2 separate regions of the Homo sapiens genome follow, and region 1 is linked to region 2. The links come from fine-mapping of genetic effects on gene expression. Tissue or cell type: iPS cells. Region 2 holds a variant in brackets; the other region holds the start of a gene. All regions are shown on one strand. Distances are between the middles of the regions.

Region 1 (5,381 bases), 51 kb before region 2:
ATGGTAAATACCAATCTACACCCAACTATGTCTCTTTTTGCACATCATAGAGAAAACAAATCAGCACTGAAAGAGGTAATGCAGTATGGTTTGACTTTTTTTAAAAAATTAATTTTATTTTATTATGGTGGAAACAAATCAACAAAACTTCTCTGATTGCCTCCCAAATATTTTGCCATTTTGAAACTTGGTGTGGATGACAGTATTTTGCTCATAGCTAAATAGAATACATGTCTTATTGAGTGTTTATGATAATAGCAGACACAGGAGCAAGGTTTAAAAATTTCTCTAAGGGAGAATATTTTTATCTACTAACTTGAGTATTTAGAATAACTAGTGAATATTACAAGGGGTAATGATCAGTATAATCAGGTTGGAGATGCCCCTTGACCTAAATGCGACATTAATAGGAGAACAAATTTTCACAGTTTATCATTTACTTATATAGACTAGCTCAGTTATTAATGTCCTAATTTTATAAATATCCCTGTATGCAAAACTATGACAAGTCTACCTGTGCTGATTGTGCAGAAGTGGGATGTGAGAGTTATTCCAGGAGCTATTGCTGAGAAGAGAGAAATATCACTTTTGGGTCCTTTTGAAAGAGCTCAATGAACTGGTAACATCTCTTTAAAAATGAAGACCCTTTAAAAATAAAGAAGGGCAAATGAATCGTTTGTAATGTTTTATTCTTTGAGTTCCCTGAAGAGTAGGTGTACACACTTGTAAGAATGTCAGTTGCTTGGTTTCAGAAAGCTTGGCAGGGTTCCATTTGGAATTCAAAGACATACCTCATGAATGGAGTTTCAGATAAATTGAAAGAGTCCTAATAACTTTTCAAAATGAGAACCATGCCAATTTCTCACTGCCTAATGACATTCATCAACTCATCTCACAGAAAGGTTTGAAAAAGCTATTATCTTCAAAACATGTTTATTGTCTAGAATATGTTTTCTTTTATTTTTCCTTCCAGTATGTTTAACATGAAAATAGTGATTGGGAACTTAAGACTAACATCAATACTAGGAATTTAGTATTTCTTTTCTAGAGTCTTATTTTAACTTTTTATTGAGTAAAACTAGTTTGAAAAGTTGAGTTTTTTCCTGTTCCAGAGCCTAATTTTATTTAGGATCTGACCCATGAAAATTCTTAATGAGTTACATAAGATGTCATTCCTTCAGTTAACTACAATGAAAGATTATGAAAGTAACTGATGAATGGAGATATGAAGTGCTACGTTTTTCAAAACAATTGGAACTGCTGTGGCACTATTGACTGGAGATTCTTTGTGGGGGGCAATGTAAGGAGGGCTTTTCTCTTAGGATACCTCCTTAGACCAACCCAGAGCTCTGGGAAGCTGCTCTTGAGGATTTTGTATCTTTTCATCCCGCTAGTGGGCCTAATTTGCAGTGACCCCCTTTACCTTAAGTCATAGTATCTGCAACAAGGCCTCATTTCTTGGGGAAGATAGCAAACTTGTAGTTAAAAGGCTCTAGGCCCAGTCCTAGATATAGGAATTGAATAAAATCATGAATGTAATCATGTAATCATTTCCTCCTTGTAAATTAAGATTTGTTACTAATTTATGTATTCAGCTGGTAAATGAGCAACTTTCTATTGTGTCAGGAATGGGGGCAGTAGATTAAGACAGAACCACTAACAGGGAGGAGGTCATTGCCTATGGAAATAGCTGTTGCAGCACTCTTCTGAGCCTGAATTTTAAAAATAACAAACATGGCTTTGCTTCATGATCTATGAAGTACCATAGGAATTCGGGAGGTCTGAAAACGAAAAGTATCAAGTTCAAGCTAAAAGATTAAACTACAAGCATTTATTAGGTTGAATATGAGAATAAAATAAAAGTGTAGTCAACCCTTGATTATTCACAGATTGGCTAGAGTTTATGATTATCAATGCCCTTCGATTCTCCTTTTGCTTCCAACTACCAACTATTGAATATTTTTTTGCTCATTAACACCTGTCTAGGAGTGGGAAGGTGAAATGCTAATCAGCCAATTTGGTTAATTGTTAGTGGCTGCTATAATCCTTTTTTTTTTAAGTTGAGATAAGGAAATACTTTACTTAAATATTGGCTGTGGACTACTAAACTTTATGTCACCTTCCCTTCCTTTTTACTGCATGGATAAATGCAGGTATTTAGTTCTTAGTAAGGTAGTAGAGAGAATTAAAAAGATAGTAATTCATCAATCCAATGTTTTTCAAGTATCACACTATAAATTCACATTACATAATTCTTATTGGCCAGTGTTCAGAAAATATTAATCTTCTACAATATGACTACTTTAAAAGAAAGCTTCAAGATTTAATAGTTGCAATTTTAAGTGTAGCCCTATATAAATAACTGCACTTGCTAAGTGGATTTGTATCAACAGGAACATAACTTCTAGAAAATTACTCAAGACTACCCTCCCTTTTGCCTGTGATAGACATTTGGGACCCTCCCCAAACCAAATAAGGGAAAGAAGAATGTTCTGAGCATTAAGAGCACTAAGAATAAATCTGAGCTCTCACGGATAAGATTACTTTCAACTCTTTATTTCATGTTTTCTGACATAGACCCCAGGATCTGTAATTATCTTAGAGAAACTGCGGGGGCTTAGATGGTACTTTGTAGTTCATTTGGTTTTTTTTGTTTGTTTGTTTGTTTTTTGCCTTTCTCTCTTTGGGGCTGAAGAGCTGGTGTGTCTGTGTGTGTGTTCCTCTAGAGTGCCAAAAAAGAAAAAAAAAAGTGCTGAAGAGTCCTAGGGAGATGAGGCTATTTTTGTTTGAAGCTGATACTTCTAGCTGAGCCACAAGTGCTGCTTGGAAAGGGCTTAGGTTGTTTCCAGGGGGAGAACTCTGCAGAGGAGAGGCAAAGTTCAACAGGACAACAAAGAAGCAGCAGAAACAGCCAGGAAAACGAAGAGCCCCCAGGTTTTGACACAGAACCCTCCACCAGAGTTCTCAAATCCCCAAATACTCTGCAAAGTGCAACTTGACGGGAACTTTTCAACTGACTTTTACTTTTGACGACCACCATGACTGAGATCACTGCTGAAGGTATTGCTACCATTTTCCGATAGTATCAAGTAAGGAAAAAAAATATGCAAATCGACAGCCACATTAACTGTCGATGTGTCCATTTAAAATGTTGCTTTAAGGTAATTGCCTTGGTCAATGATTCTATACAGGATCTGAGAAGTGGATTTAGGAGCTGAGAGGCTGCCAGATCTGTATATTGGGGGAGCAAAAAGAGATTTCTCTTAAATTTTGCATGTGGAAACTGTTCTCTGCTATACCAAAGGCCCCACTAGTTAACAGTTGTTACTCACACCTCTATAAATAGCTATGGTCATGTAACATGATGGCCGATATCTTATCCAGCAAAAATTACAAAGTTTTCAAGGATGGAGACCATGATGAACTTAAAATATTACACTAATGCTTACTTAAAATATTACACTAATGCTTACTTAAACTTAAAAAGTAATTTGAAGCATTTCTGCTTTATGATATTTTTAAATGGAGACCTTAAATTTGTTTTTCCTTTCCTACTAGGGTATGTAAAACACACATACATATATATGATTTATATACAATTTAAGACATAAGTGTTCCCATAAAATTTGTATTTATTTGACCATTAATGGAAATTCAGAGATAAAGACTGGAATTCCACAAACTTACTGTGAATCAGTATGATTTTTAAAATAAAGCAATTAAGTGTTAGAATTCTGGTTCTTTTTGTAAATTCATTCTTCATTTTCCTCTAAATGGTAAATTCTATCTTTATGTTACAATAAATATTTTCTGTTTCAATGCTTTACTGAAAGCTACATACTATAATACATATCTTCTATTTGATGGTTGCTAGTTATATATATTTATATTTCATATATACTTCATATATATATGTACGTATTTCTTAGAATGAAGGAAACCTTCAAAACTAAATTACTTTGAATACAGACACAGTCTGGTTCTAGTTGAGGTAAAACTTTTGGAGGTGGATCTAAAATTTGCTTCTGACAGCTGTAAGAAAATCAGACAGGTGGTGCTCTTAACAACTTCCAAGTTAAATGCTGTGCTGGTTTGCTTTGAATAATACAACTGAAAAATAGAATATTTGTTTTTATTTTTGAGGGTAGAAATTAGTATGGACACACAGTAATTTCTGTTGGAGATTTTTAGTCAATATTTATAAGAAGTGCCTTATTTGTACCTTGCACTGAGAAATTCAGTCTGACACCTCGTATTAATAACAATTACTGAGAGATTTCTATGTGTTAGGTATTTTGCTCAGAACGTTATGTGTGTTTACTTATTTAAAACTGACACAATTCAATTAAGTAGGCATTATTATCTCAGTTTGGCAGAAAAAGGAACTGTAACTAAAATGTTATGTGACTTGCTCAAGACCAGCATTACCAACATTTAAACCCAGCCCCTTTAAATCTTGTTTGTGTGTGTGTGTGTGTGTGTGTGTGTGTTTTCTTTTCTGTGAGAGGATATCAGGTTTACTCTTTACCAATTTTAGTTCAGAATTTGCTAACTAAATATAAATAGCATTTTTCCTATTCCTTAGATATTCTGTGTCATGTTGCTTTTAGTTTGCCTTAAAGAAAGCTATGTATAAAAACTTCTTGTTTAGCTCTGCACAAGTTATTAAGATAGCTACGAGCGTCTTAATCTTCTGTTTCTCTACCTCTGTTCAGGGTTTGGGCTCCCAGGTGATTCAGGAGGTCAGTTGACTAAACCATCTTGGGCTTGCTTGTGGATTATGTTTTGTAGAACTTGCATTTGATTCAAAAGACTTTTTACAGGAAAATTCTTGATTATGAAATAGAGCTTTTGTTTCTGCCTTTGCTCTGCGGGGGTTTAAAAGGGCCTTGGAAGACCTTCTGGAGTTACCCATAAAAATAATTACATTAGTAATAAAATTAAAAAGTAGAAATACCATCTAATTCTTGGGTGATGGTCATTTTCCACTTCCGGGCCTTAACAGTTCATAGGATCTATGTTATCTGAACATCAATTATGCATTTTTTTTTGTTTTCTGGAATGATTTATTAATAATATTTCTCAAATGAAAATTAGACTGCCAACTCAAATGAACTCATCTTTTAAGGAAGCACAGTCATTCTTTGATGATATCCAAAGTTTTTTCACACTTTGTTACTACACAGTTTCATGTTATCTTTGCAATTCTCACCTTTTGTGCCCTAGCTACAATTGTCTTCCTCCAGTCTTTTATAAAAGGTATACCTTTGTACAGTGCCTTGGTACAGGCTATTTTCTGAGCCTGAAATAGTCTTATTTTATCTCATCTGCTATATTTTTTTCAACCATTTATTTATTTATTTTATTTTTTTTAGAGCAGA
Region 2 (5,381 bases):
AATAAAACTCTAAATCCCCAACTTACTGAATGGCTCCTTCCTCTCTGCCCAGGGAACTCCAAAGTAAACCTGAAAAACTAGTTCAGGCCATGATGGGAAGGAGGTGTCAGACATGTCTCCTTATATCTCCTTCCCTTTGGAATTCAGGTGCAACTTGCCAGCATTAACATTAAAACAGAGATTTTTAAGAGTTGCGAAACAGACTCTTTGTAGCAATAAGATACCAGATTCCAACTTGACTAGTATAGCATCATGTGACAGATAGCAGACCCTACAAGAAATAAAAATATTGTACCCCAAAATATATTTGACATATTTTGAAATGGCCTTATTAGGCTGTCTCTTGCGGAAAATCTACATTCTGTAGAGAATTTCCCTCCCTTTCCAGATCTTGTCCTGATGCAGGAGAGAGTAACTGAGAGTCTAGCACCTTTTGGGGTCTGATAAGAGACATTTGCCATCTATTCTCTCTGAAGCCTGCTACCTGAAGGCTTCACTTACATAATAAGAAACTTGATCTCCATTGTCAGGCCTCTGAGCCCAAGCTAAGCCATCATATCCCCTGTGACCTGCACGTACACATCCAGATCGACAGTTCCTGCCTTAACTGATAACATTCCACCACAAAAGAAGTGAAAATGGCCTGTTCCTGCCTTAACTGATGACATTGTCTTGTGAAATTCCTTCTCCTGGCTCATCCTGGCTCAAAAGCTCCCCCACTGAGTACCTTGTGACCCCCACTCCTGCCTGCCAGAGAACAACCCCCCCTTTTGCTTTACCTACCCAAATCCTATAAAACAGCTCCACCCCTATCTCCCTTCACTGACTCTCTTTTTGGACTCAGCCCACCTGCACCCAGGTGAAATAAACAGCTTTATTGCTCACACAAAGCCTGTTGGTGGTCTCTTCACACGGACGCACATGAAATTTGGTGCCGCGACTCAGATCAGGGGACCTCCCTTGGGAGATCAATCCCCTGTCCTCCTGTTCTTTGCTCCGTGAGAAAGATCCACTTACGACCTCAGGTCCTCAGACCGACCAGCCCAAGGAACATCTCACCAATTTTAAATCGGGTAAGCAGACTCTTCTTACTCTCTTCTCCAACCTCTCTCACTGTCCCTCAACCACTTTCTCCTTTCCACTCTTCAATCTCTTCCTTCTCTTAATTTCAATTCCTTTCATTTTCTGGTAGAGACAAAGGAGACACGTTTTATCCGTGGACCCAAAACTCTGGCGCCAGTCATGGACTAGGGAAGGCAGCCTTCCCTTGGTGTTTAATCATTGGAGGGACACCTCTCTGATTATTCGTCCAGGTTTCAGAGGTGTCAGACCACGCAGGGACGCCTGCCTTGGTCCTTCATCCTTAGTGGCAAGTCCCGCTTTTCTGGGGAAGGGGCAAGTACCCCAACCCCTTCTCTCTGTGTCTCTACCTCTTTTCCACCTTTCTGGGGGGCAAGAAACCCCCAACCCCTTTTCCTTCACCCTGAGCAGCAAGTCCCGCTTTTCTAGAGGAGGGGCAAGTACCCCAACCTCATATCTCTGTGCCCCCATCCCTTATTTCCGTGCCCCAACCTCTTATATCGCTGTACCCCAATCCATTATTTCTGTGCCCTAACCTCTTATATCTCTGCACCCCAATCCCTTATTTCCATGCCCTGACCTTGTATCTCTGTGCCCCGACCCCTTTCCCGCTTTTCTGGAGGGTAAGAACCCCCAAACCCCTTCCCTCCATGTCTCTACTCTCTCTTTTCTCTGGGTTTGTCTCCTTCACTATGGGCAACCTTCCACCCTCCATTCCTCCTTCTTCTCCCTTAGTCTGTGTTCTTAAGAACTTAAAACCTCTTCAACTCTCATCTAACCTAAAATCTAAGTGTCTTATTTTCTTCTGCAATGCCGCTTGACCCCAATACAAACTCGACAGTAGTTCCAAATAGCCAGAAAACGGCACTTTCAATTTTTCCATCCTTCAAGATCTAAATAATTCTTGTTGTAAAATGGGCAAATGGTCTGAGGTGCCTGACATCCAGGCATTCTTTTACACATCAGTCCCTCTATAGTCTCTGTTCCCAATGCAACTCATCCCAAATCTTCCTCCTTTCCCTCCCACCTGTCCCCTCAGTCCCAACCCCAAGCATCACTGAGTCTTTCTACTCTTCCTTTTCTACAGACACATCTGACCTCTCCCCTCCTCGCCAGGCCGAGCTAGGTCCCAATTCTTCCTCAGCCTCCGGTCCTCCACCCTATAATCCTTTTATCATCTCCCCTCCTCACACCCGGTCCGGCTTACAGTTTCATTCCGTGACTAGCCCTCACCTGCCCAGCAATTTACTCTTAAAAAGGTGGCTGAAGCTAAAGGCATAGTCAAGGTTAATGCTCCTTTTTCTTTATCAGACCTCTCCCAAATCAGTGAGCATTTAGACTCTTTCATCAAATATGAAAAACCCAGCCCAGTTCATGACTCGTTTGGCAGCAACCCTGAGACACTTTACAGCCCTAGACCCTAAAAGGTCAAAAGGCCGTCTTATTCTCAAAATACATTTTATTACCCAATCTGCTCCCGACATTAAATAAAACTCCAAAAATTAAATTCTGGCCCTCAAACCCCACAACAGGATTTAATCAACCTCGCCTTCAAGGTGTACAATAATAGAAAAAAGTTGCAATTCCTTGCCTCCACTGTGAGACAAACCCCAGCCACATCTCCAGCACACAAGAACTTCCAAATGCCTGAACCACAGCGGGCAGGCGTTCCTCCAGAACCTCCTCCCCCAGGAGCTTGCTACAAGTGCCAGAAATCTGGCCACCAGGCCAAGGAATGCCTGCAGCCCAGGATTCCTCCTAAGCCACGTCCCATCTGTACGGAACCCCACTGGAAATCGGACTGTCCAACTCACCCGGCAGCCACTCCCAGAGCCCCTGGAACTCTGGCCCAAGGCTCTCAGACTCCTTCCCAGATCTTCTTGGCTTAGCGGCTGAAGACTGACGCTGCCCAATCGCCTCGGAAGCCCCCTAGACCATCATGGATGCCGAGCTTCGGGTAACTCTAACAGTGAAGGATAAGTCTGTCCCCATCTTAATCAATACCAAGGCTACTCACTCCACATTACCTTCTTTTCAAGGGCCTGTTTCCCTTGCCTCCATAACTGTTGTGGGTATTGATGGCCAGGCTTCTAAACCTCTTAAAA[G/C]TCCCCAACTCTGGTGCCAAATTAGACAATACTCTTTTAAGCACTCCTTTTAATTATCCCCACCTGCCCAGTTCCCTATTAGGCCGAGACACTTTAACTAAATTATCTGCTTCCCTGACTATTCCTGGATTACAGCTACATCTCATTGCTGCCCTTCTTCCCAATCCAAAGCCTCCTTTGCGTGCTCCTCTTGTATTCCCCCACCTTAACCCACAAGTATAAGATACCTCTACTCCCTCCTTGGCAACCGATCATGCACCCCTTACCATCTCATTAAAACCTAATCACCCTTACTCCAATCAATGCCAATATCCCATCCCACAGCATGCTTTGAAAGGATTAAAGCCTGTTATCACTTGCCTGCTACAGCATGGCCATTTAAAGCCTATAAACTCTCCTTACAATTCCCCCATTTTACCTGTCCTAAAACCAGACAAGCCTTACAAGTTAGTTCAGGATCTGCGCCTTATCAACCAAATTGTTTTGCCTATCCACCCCGTGGTTCCAAATCCATATACTCTCCTATCCTCAATACCTCCCTCCACAATCCATTATTCTGTTCTGGATCTCAAACATGCTTTCTTTACTATTCCTTTCCACCCTTCATCCCAGCCTCTCTTGGCTTTCACTTGGACTGACCCTGACACCCACTAGGCTCAGCAAATTACCTAGGCTGTACTGCCGCAAGGCTTCACAGACAGCCCCCATTACTTCAGTCAAGCCCAAATTTCATCCTCATCTGTTACCTATCTCGGCATAATCTCATAAAAACACACGTGCGTTCCCTGCTGATCGTGTCCGATTAATCTCCCAAACCTCAATCCCTTACAAAACAACAACTCCTTTCCTTCCTAGGCATGGTTAGTGCGGTCAGAATTCTTACACAAGAGCCAGGACCGCACCCTGTAGCCTTTCTGTCCAAACAACTTGACCTTACTGTTTTAGCCTAGGCATCATGTCTCCGTGCAGCGGCTGCTGCCACCCTAATACTTTTAGAGGCCGTCAAAATCACAAACTATGCTCAACTTACTCTCTACATTTCTCATAACTTCCAAAATCTATTTTCTTCCTCATATCTGACGCATATACTTTCTGCTCCCCGGCTCCTTCAGCTGTACTCACTCTTTGTTAAGTCCCACAATTACCATTGTTCCTGGCCCGGACTTCAATCCAGCCTCCCACATTATTCCTGATACCACACCCGACCTCCATGACTGTATCTGTCTGATCCTCCTGACATTCACCCCATTTCCCCATATTTCCTTCTTTCCTGTTCCTCACCCTGATCACGCTTGATTTATTGATGGCAGTTCCACTAGGCCTAATCGCCACACACCAGCAAAGGCAGGCTATGCTATAGTACAAGCCACTATCCCGCCTCTTTGAACCTCTCATTTCCTTTCCATCGTGGAAATCTATCCTCAAGGAAATAACTTCTCAGTGTTCCATCTACTATTCTACCACTCCTCAGGGATTATTCAGGCCCCCTCCCTTCCCTACACATCAAGCTTGAGGATTTGGCCCCACCCAGGACTGGCAAATTAGCTTTACTCAACATGCCCGGAGTCAGATAACTAAAATACCTGTTAGTCTAGGTAGACACTTTCACTGGATAGGTAGAGTCCTTTCCTACAGGGTCTGAGAAGGCCACCACAGTCATTTTTTCCCTTCTGTCAGACATAATTCCTCAGTTTAGCCTTCCTACCTCAATACAGTCTGATAACAGACAAGCTTTTATTAGTCAAATCAGCCAAGCAGTTTTTCAGGCTCCTAGTATTCAGTGAAACCTTTATATCCCTTACGGTCCTCCATCTTCAGGAAAAGTAGAACAGACTAAAGGTCTTTTAAAAACACACCTCACCAAGCTCAGCCACCAACTTAAAAAGGACTGGATAATACTTTTATGACTTTCCCTTCTCAGAAGTCAGACCTGTCCTCAGAATACTACAAGGTACAGCCCATTTGAGCTCCTGTATAGACGTTCCTTTTTATTAGGCCCCAGTCTCATTCCAGACACCAGAACTTAGACTGTGCCCCCCAAAAACTTGTCATCCCTACTATCTTCTGTCTAGTCATACTCCTATTCACCGTTCTCAACTACTCATACATGCCCTGCTATTGTTTACACTGCCGGTTTACAGTTTCTCCAAGCCATCACAGCTGATATCTCCTGGTGCCATCCCCAAACTGCCACTC

Which allele goes with the higher level. Alleles are on the strand shown, and positions count from the first base shown. SD is a standard deviation of normalised expression in the study named.
As copies of G replace C in region 2, the expression in iPS cells of the gene that starts at base 2,864 in region 1 goes down (large effect, 0.83 SD a copy in PhLiPS).

What was found.
Region 1: it holds the start of TRDN, and the variant in region 2 is fine-mapped to the expression of TRDN in iPS cells (PhLiPS, PIP 0.95).

What each region holds. Positions count from the first base shown.
Region 1 is chr6:123,634,433-123,639,813 of GRCh38, reverse strand. TRDN (triadin) reads left to right here and starts at 2,864. Exons shown (of 41, transcript NM_006073.4): 1 at 2,864-3,060. The coding sequence starts at 3,039. The region is part of intron 1 of LOC105377981 (a long non-coding RNA gene); the gene reads right to left.
Region 2 is chr6:123,583,151-123,588,531 of GRCh38, reverse strand. All of the region lies in intron 1 of TRDN (triadin), which reads left to right. Among named protein-coding and RNA genes, the nearest start is that of TRDN, 51 kb to the left of the region's middle. The variant G/C (reference allele first, on the strand shown) is at 3,186.